Linked DNA regions of Homo sapiens. The protein of the gene in region 2 interacts with the protein of the main gene of each other region in a pairwise test. Each region holds a gene or a part of one and is shown on either strand. Other genes may lie near its edges.

Region 1 (3,767 bases), on a different chromosome or scaffold from region 2:
CTGTTATATCTTACATTTTCACTGATGTGGAATAAGAATGCTAATATCATGACTACTGGAATAATAGTAATTTTTGTTAATAACTTTAATTTTGCAGTGTATGGAAATTCTCAGTTAATTTGTTAATAACCAGTTCATGTCTCTGGAATAAGTAATTGAGCATTTCAACAAAGCAACCAGCCTCCTATAATGCCATTACTAGAATTGCAGACAATTTTTAGAGATACAGACATTATGCTATAAAAGTACAAATGTAAATTAAATGACAAAGGCTTACATTTTGAAAGGAAAGCATTATATTTGGGCTTTAGCGCAGATTAATGTGAATGAATTCTATTAAGCTATGCTACACTATAATTCTGAATGTGAATTGATTTTACTTAAAAAAATAAGTGTACTTGATTCTTTTTTAAAGAGGGAAGGTATTTATTTTTATTAAAATGTAAACTAATGCTAATTAACAAAATGTTTAATTTCATTGGTATATTTTGTTATTATTTTGTAAAGTAGAAAATGTTTATTCCCCTTACTTTCAGAACTGGTACTAATTCCAAAAAAATAAACTATTCTGTTTTAGCTCATATTTTTTTAAGAACCAATAAGAAAGTGATCTTTAGGCTGACAATTCTCAAAAAAAATTGTGAGATATCATCTGTGCTCAGGTATCTTTGTAAAATAAAATGCAAAGATGAGACCCTTTTTTGGTATTATTCAATTTTTATACATGTTAAAATGAATTACTTTTCAATATGATGTTTATGAGAAGAAAAAAGCATGCCTTCTTTTTTTCTGTTTGCATTTCAGCACCACCACCTCCACCACCATCAAGGGGAGGGCCACCTCCTCCTCCTCCCCCTCCACACAACTCAGGTCCTCCTCCTCCTCCTGCTAGGGGAAGAGGCGCTCCTCCCCCACCACCTTCAAGAGCTCCCACAGCTGCACCTCCACCACCGCCTCCTTCCAGGCCAAGTGTAGCAGTCCCTCCACCACCGCCAAATAGGATGTACCCTCCTCCACCTCCAGCCCTTCCCTCCTCAGCACCTTCAGGGCCTCCACCACCACCTCCATCTGTGTTGGGGGTAGGGCCAGTGGCACCACCCCCACCGCCTCCACCTCCACCTCCTCCTGGGCCACCGCCCCCGCCTGGCCTGCCTTCTGATGGGGACCATCAGGTTCCAACTACTGCAGGAAACAAAGCAGCTCTTTTAGATCAAATTAGAGAGGGTGCTCAGCTAAAAAAAGTGGAGCAGAACAGTCGGCCAGTGTCCTGCTCTGGACGAGATGCACTGTTAGACCAGATACGACAGGGTATCCAACTAAAATCTGTAAGTAAGCTTTTTTTTTTTTCATTTTAGATCCTTTATCATAATGGAATTTTAAAGTAATTTATTGAAAGATATTTTTGAAAAGTGTATTCTTTTTTCCTCTTGCTAATTCATTCTTAACCCTATAAATTTAAAAATACTTTTACATGCAGTGACATGCACAAATTTTTAATTCAGCTTTGATACATCTCTATAGCCATGTAACCCATATCTCTATATCCAAATGTAGGGTATTTCTGTCACCCCAGAAGGTTTTCTCATACCTCTTCCCAGTTAATTTTTCCATAAACAATCACTGATCTAATCACCATAGATTAGTTTTACCTATTCTAGAACTTCATGTGAATGGAATTTTACAGGATGTTTGCAATTCATTGTTCTAGACTTTACTTTCAAATAAAAGGTACTTTAAAGAAAAATCCTTATTAAGCTGTGAGAATTAAAAATAGCCCTACTTGAAACCAATTGTGATCACCTTAGGAAATCTAAACCAGTAGCTTTATGAAAATTAAATCATGTTCCAAAGTTTTCATGTTCTAAAATTTAGATTAGTAGAGAATCAGACCAAAAAAATTGAAAGAGTTGTAATAGAATTTCTGACAGTGATGGCAAATAAATTTAGGATTATCTGATTTGGATGAGGTAATCATTTAATCTTACAGGTCATTTAATCTTCTAGAGTTCAGCAAACATTTTCCTATAAAGGATCAGGTAGTAAAACCTTGGGCTTATATAGGCAGTATGGCCTCTTGTGACCACTCAGCTCTGCTGTTTTACCGCAGAAGCACCACAGACAATACATAAATGAATGGACATGCTTGTGTTCTATAAAACTATATTTGGACACTGAAATTTGAATTTTATATAACTTTCACATATCAAAAATACTCTTATTTTCTTTCAGCCATTTAAAAATGTAAAAATCAAGCTTAATTTTTAGATAGTTTTAAAAAAAAATCCAAGAACAGGCTGGATTTGGCCCATGGGCTCAAGTTTGCTGACTCCTATCCTAGAACCTAACCTGTCTACATTTACATACTTCTTTTGGAGCCTTTTATAACATGTTCTCCAGGACTTCAGGGAGGTCATGGATGATAGAGTTTTTCTGTGAAGTAAATGGAGACGACAGAGGATGTTTTAATTGAAAATTATTTCCCAGTATAGGAATTAAAGTAACTTTCTAGATCTCAGAAACTTTGTCTAAAAGGAGGGTAATAGATAGGAAGCACAACTAATTGAATGAAAACATGTAAACATTAGCATAGATCTAAGAAGACTCTGATCTTTAAAATATATCTAGCTCTTTTCTTTACATGTATTCAGGATGACACTTAAACCTATGAACAGTCATCTCTGTTCTCTTTCCCCCTTTAGATCAGACTAAAGGCCTGTCAAGAGCAGTTGAAGAACTTTAAAGAGTGGTTAGTGGGGAGAATTAATGTCAAAATGACCACAGCCCAGCTTTTACCTTGGAATCTCTGCTAGTTCCTGTGTCATTCTCATTCCCGTAACTCTCACTCCTAACCCACCTTTTTGTTTTCCTTTTCTATTTCCTTTTCACAAACCAACTTTGTTTCTTTCTCTCATTTAGCTATAATAAGGTGATTTAAAATTTTTAACGAATAAAGTTGTATCCTCATTTATTTTAAAAAGTTTAAGAGTTAAATTTCTATTTACTTTCTCCATAACTTTCTCCCATCCCAACTCTCCCTTTCTTTCCAAAAAAAAAAAAAGAAGCAGCAAAACCTGTTAATTGATGTGTAAGAATGGGGGCCATTTTTATCCTAAATAATCACTTTCCTTTTGATTGCATTTATTGCAATCATAGGGTGCATAATCAGTGAACTATTGGCATGTTATACATGTAATCCGAGTTCGTTATTTTTTGAAAAAGACCATTTTGTGGTTGAAATTTCTATGGCTATGTTTCTTTAAATTTTTTGAGTAAATCATCAATTTATTCTGTGATGAATATGATTAACATAAAACCATAGACTTACTTTAAAGAGCTAGTAGGAGGTATTGAATACTCACATATATTTTTGAATTCCATGGTTTTAGTACCTCAAATAGTACTTTGTTCAAGTAAGCACTTCAAAAAATGTGTTTGATGAGAGTATGCTCACTTCTGCTTTGTGCTCTCTGCTTTACATTATCACATTGCTTAAAGGTAGTCTAAATGTCCCTACCGCTGTTGTACCTCCTTGAGAGCCTTGTGCAGAAATACAAAGCTCTGAAACTCTCTGTTATCTTTTTTCATTTGTGGTACTTCTATACTGGAAATAGTTAATACATAATGTTTAAAGCCAAAATACTAAGGAATGAATCTATATCTTAGGGGGAACCACTTTGAATTTTTTTAAAAAAGGTGTTTACTCCAGAAAGAACAAGGAGTATTAGAGGAAGAATTGTACAGATCAAAATGGAAAGTTTGTCTAAATA
Region 2 (3,767 bases):
GCAGGACCCAGGACCCAGCGCTTGGGTGCTTCCCACCAGACCCTTCCCTGAGAACCTGGGTTTGAAATTGTCTGACAGGCCTCAGATGTGGCACAGACCAGCATTGTCACTTGGGTGCTAAGAAGTTGCTGTGCTGGTCATGGATTAAGATTGCTGTGCGTGTGGCAGCCGGCTCGGGCATGCGAGTCTTCCATCCACTTGCAGCCCTGCGTCTGTGTCTTGTCCGGGAGGTGGGGGCAGTTGGGAGGGTTAGAGGCGGCTCCTTTCTGGGTGCCCCTGGAGGGGCAGGTGTGGCCAGTCCTCGCTGCCTCTGCTGTCTGGAATGCTGCTTCCCTCTTGTGTCATTGACCATTTCTCGTGATGCTGGTTGTGACTCAGGAGAGTAGATGACGGGCCGTGTGCCGGCCGGATGTACGCTGACGGTGCCTCTGCTGCTGCAGGTGTACGCGGTGGAGGCCAGTGAGATGGCACAGCACACGGGGCAGCTGGTCCTGCAGAACGGCTTTGCTGACATCATCACCGTGTACCAGCAGAAGGTGGAGGATGTGGTGCTGCCCGAGAAGGTGGACGTGCTGGTGTCTGAGTGGATGGGGACCTGCCTGCTGGTGAGGGCGGGCGTGCGGGCAGCTGGGGGCCGGAGCTGGGGGGCTTCTGAGCACGGGCTCGGCTGGGCCAACCTCAGGATCTCAAGGGTCGTGCGTGATTCATTTTGATGTTTTCCCTAATGTGAGGTCTAATTAATTTCTTGTGTGGACATTGGCTCAGTGTCTTGAATTTTCACCTGATTTAAAAAATGCCTTTATGAGAAATTTAAGTCAAAGTTCATGTAACATTTTCATGAGTGATTTACATGAACTGTGTTCTCCTCGGGGATCTGTAAAAATCCTGTGCCTAACAGGTAAGGCTGTTTCTTTAATGCCAGTAGGGCCTTCGTCCCTGGCCAGGGTCTCCTCGCCTTAGACTGGCCCCAGTGATGCTGTGAAGCCACTTGGGCATCTGTAGGGCCAGCATATGCCTGTCCTGTCAGGGTTGCTCACCCTGAGTTTCACATGTGGGTGGAAGTGGACTGTTTTCTGGTTGCCTGTGAATATGCCCTGCACAAACGCTGTCTGCTTGGAGGGAAGTTGACGGGAGTGTGGCTGGATGCTGTCTGCCCGCGCTGTCTTCCTGGGCTCAGCATCCTGGGACACAGGACATTGTAGTGGAGCATCCCAACCTGAAACTTTGTCTCAGTGTAGAGACCCAGAAAGATGGGGTCTGGGTGAAGGAGTGTGGAGTATGGCTGCTGCTTTCCAGGAAACGGTTTCCCCTGGTAACAGATGGCATTGGGCTTTTAGTCCTGTTGAAATTTTGTTGTCAGAAGATAAATGTAAATAGACTCAATGTCCATGCTGTGACTTGGCTTATTAATAACATCTGTGGAGCCATAAGATGACACACAGGAGAAACGGGCTCCACTCCTACCCCCTGAAGGGGCATTTGCCTTTGCCCTGAACAGCAGCGCCCATTCAATAAGTATCTGTTGACAGCTGGTGCCCCGGCCACGGGGACAAAAAGAGGACAGAGCAGGAGTGAGGCTGTGGTGAGGCCAAGGTTGTGTGGGCGGTGATACGGGGAAGCCTGGCTGCTGGAGTGTCCGGCTGTGCCCTGGATTGGGTGAGAGGGACACAGGAGGGACGTGGGGCAGAGGGAGGGGAGAGGAGTAGCCACTGTGTTCACCGTGTTGCCGTGTTCCAGGGCTGCCCAGTGGCCGGATTGGCCAGACTGTGTTGCATCAGGGAGGCAGAGGCCAGATGTAGGGAACTGTGTGTCTGAGGACTTTGTGCCACGTCCTGGACACCGAAGGGAGTGCCACTGGTGTGTGAGTGATGGAGTAAGAGGTGGGCTGTGTTTTGGAGGCCCCTGGGTATGTGTGGCCGGGACTGGAGGCCAGGGACTGGCTGTGGTCCAGCCCCAGCATGCAGAGAGGCCTGGGACATTCTGTGTGAGGGGAGGCCCCTCTGTGTGGGAGGTGCACAGACTTCCAGGACTGACCATGGCTTTATTGTCAGGATGCAGGAGCCAGGGCTTGGCATGGGGCAGGTGTGGGGGATGCAGAGCAGGGCCAGCAGGCAGGATGTGCTGATGGGGGCCTGGCGTGAGCAGGACGGTGCCTCCCAGCCCTGAGCCGCAGGGAGTGGGCCACCAGGACTGGCTGGGGGCCGGGGTAGGGAGGGCCCTGGGGAGGGTGGACATCTGTGTGGGTCTTGAACATAGGATGCCCATCCGATGTGCAGGGCCAGCTATTGGTTGGGCAGTGGGGACATGGCCTGGGGTCTCGGTGGGCGATGGCCTGGAGGGGCCACCCTGAGCAGGACATTTGGAGGAGTGCTGGGGTGAGTCAGACAGGACCATGTGGTGGTTTTCTCCAGTGCAGGCAGTGGAGGGGGAAGGCGGAGCTTTGCAGGTGAGGGCTTGAGGCAGTTCCGACTTCAGACTCCCCCCCAGGGAGACTGAGGGACCACCACCATCATTACTCAGGCCAAGGAGGCCCAGAACAGGGCAGACGGGGCTGCAAGAGTTCCTATGGCGATAGTTGTTGGGGCACAGGGTTGGTCGGATTTGAGGGAGGGAGGGTATGAATCTGGGAGTCGTTGGTGCGGTTGTACCCACCTTCACTTTCCGTCCCCAGGCTGCGCCTCTCCTGAGCTGCCGCATTCTCCCCTGCACCTGTGCGTCTGGCCCTCTTCACGTCCTCCTGGCCTGCTGTCTGCCTCTCCCCTGCACCTGTGCGTCTGTCCCTCTTCATGTCCTCCTTGCCTGCTGTCTGCCTGTTCTCAGAGCCCCTCAGCCCTCAGGCCTTCATCTCTCCTGGCCCATCTTCCTACTCTGACGCTGACATGTAGTAAAAGTCTGAAGACAGAGAAGAGTGCATGTGCGTTTAGCATAGGAGGGGCAGCTTTCAGTCAGTGCAGCAAGGGCATGTAGTTGTTCAGAGATGGTGCTGGAACGACTGATTTGGAGAAAAGAGGCCCTTCTTCACACCATCTGCTAAAATAAACCTCAGATGGGCTCAAGAGTTAAATATTTAAGAAAAGGAGGAAACAAAAAAATTGCTACAAGTTTATTTGTTGTTAGGATGGGAAAGGTTTTTCTAAGAACCAAGTTCATAATGAAGCTGTCAAATAAAATACTTGACAAAAAATTCCCCTTCATACATTAGCACAGCTAAAAACTATTAAATGGTAAATGCAACTAAAGAATTGCAGCTAAAGAATTGTGTGACGTAAAGAGTTGCAATAAGAAAAGCATAAGATAAAGGTAACCTCATGGAAGGTGAGCAGGGACTAGAAAGGCAGAGAAATGCCAGAGGCCAGGAGCTTGAACGTTGTTCAATGCCACCAACAATTTGAAAGTAACTGTAATAGTTTTGACCTGGGAAGTTGGCTGAGCAATCCTCTAATATCTGATGCTCCCGATGCTGAGGTTGTGGGGAAGTGTGCACCGCCATGCCCTTTTTTTGGCAGTGTAAATTGGTAAAGCCTTTTGAAGGAAAATAGGGCAGAATAAGTCAAAGAGCATTAAAATTTTTTTGTTTTTCCAGAAGCAGCAAAGTTCTGAAGGAGACGCAAGTAAAGATACCACAGGTGTCCTAGATTGTCAACAGACCATTTAATCATTTTTGTTAACAAAGCAGGTGACAATTGAGCCCTAATTTGCGTTATCATTAGTTGTTACAGGATCTTGCTTGTTCTCCTGAGGCCACGCCACGATTTCCGAGAAGCAGG

The links.
Region 1: the proteins of PRMT2 (region 2) and WASL interact in a two-hybrid assay, tested with the Homo sapiens proteins (one large-scale study listed by BioGRID and IntAct).

Annotation. Positions count from the first base shown.
Region 1 is NC_000007.14:123,689,905-123,693,671, reverse strand, and holds part of WASL (actin nucleation-promoting factor WASL), read left to right. Parts: intron 1-804; coding exon 805-1,325; intron 1,326-3,767. UniProt on the Homo sapiens protein: Regulates actin polymerization by stimulating the actin-nucleating activity of the Arp2/3 complex. Involved in various processes, such as mitosis and cytokinesis, via its role in the regulation of actin polymerization.
Region 2 is NC_000021.9:46,649,135-46,652,901, forward strand, and holds part of PRMT2 (protein arginine N-methyltransferase 2), read left to right. Parts: intron 1-440; coding exon 441-605; intron 606-2,671; coding exon of another isoform or gene 2,672-2,872; exon of another isoform or gene 2,873-3,710; coding exon of another isoform or gene 3,711-3,767. UniProt on the Homo sapiens protein: Arginine methyltransferase that methylates the guanidino nitrogens of arginyl residues in proteins such as STAT3, FBL, histone H4. Acts as a coactivator (with NCOA2) of the androgen receptor (AR)-mediated transactivation.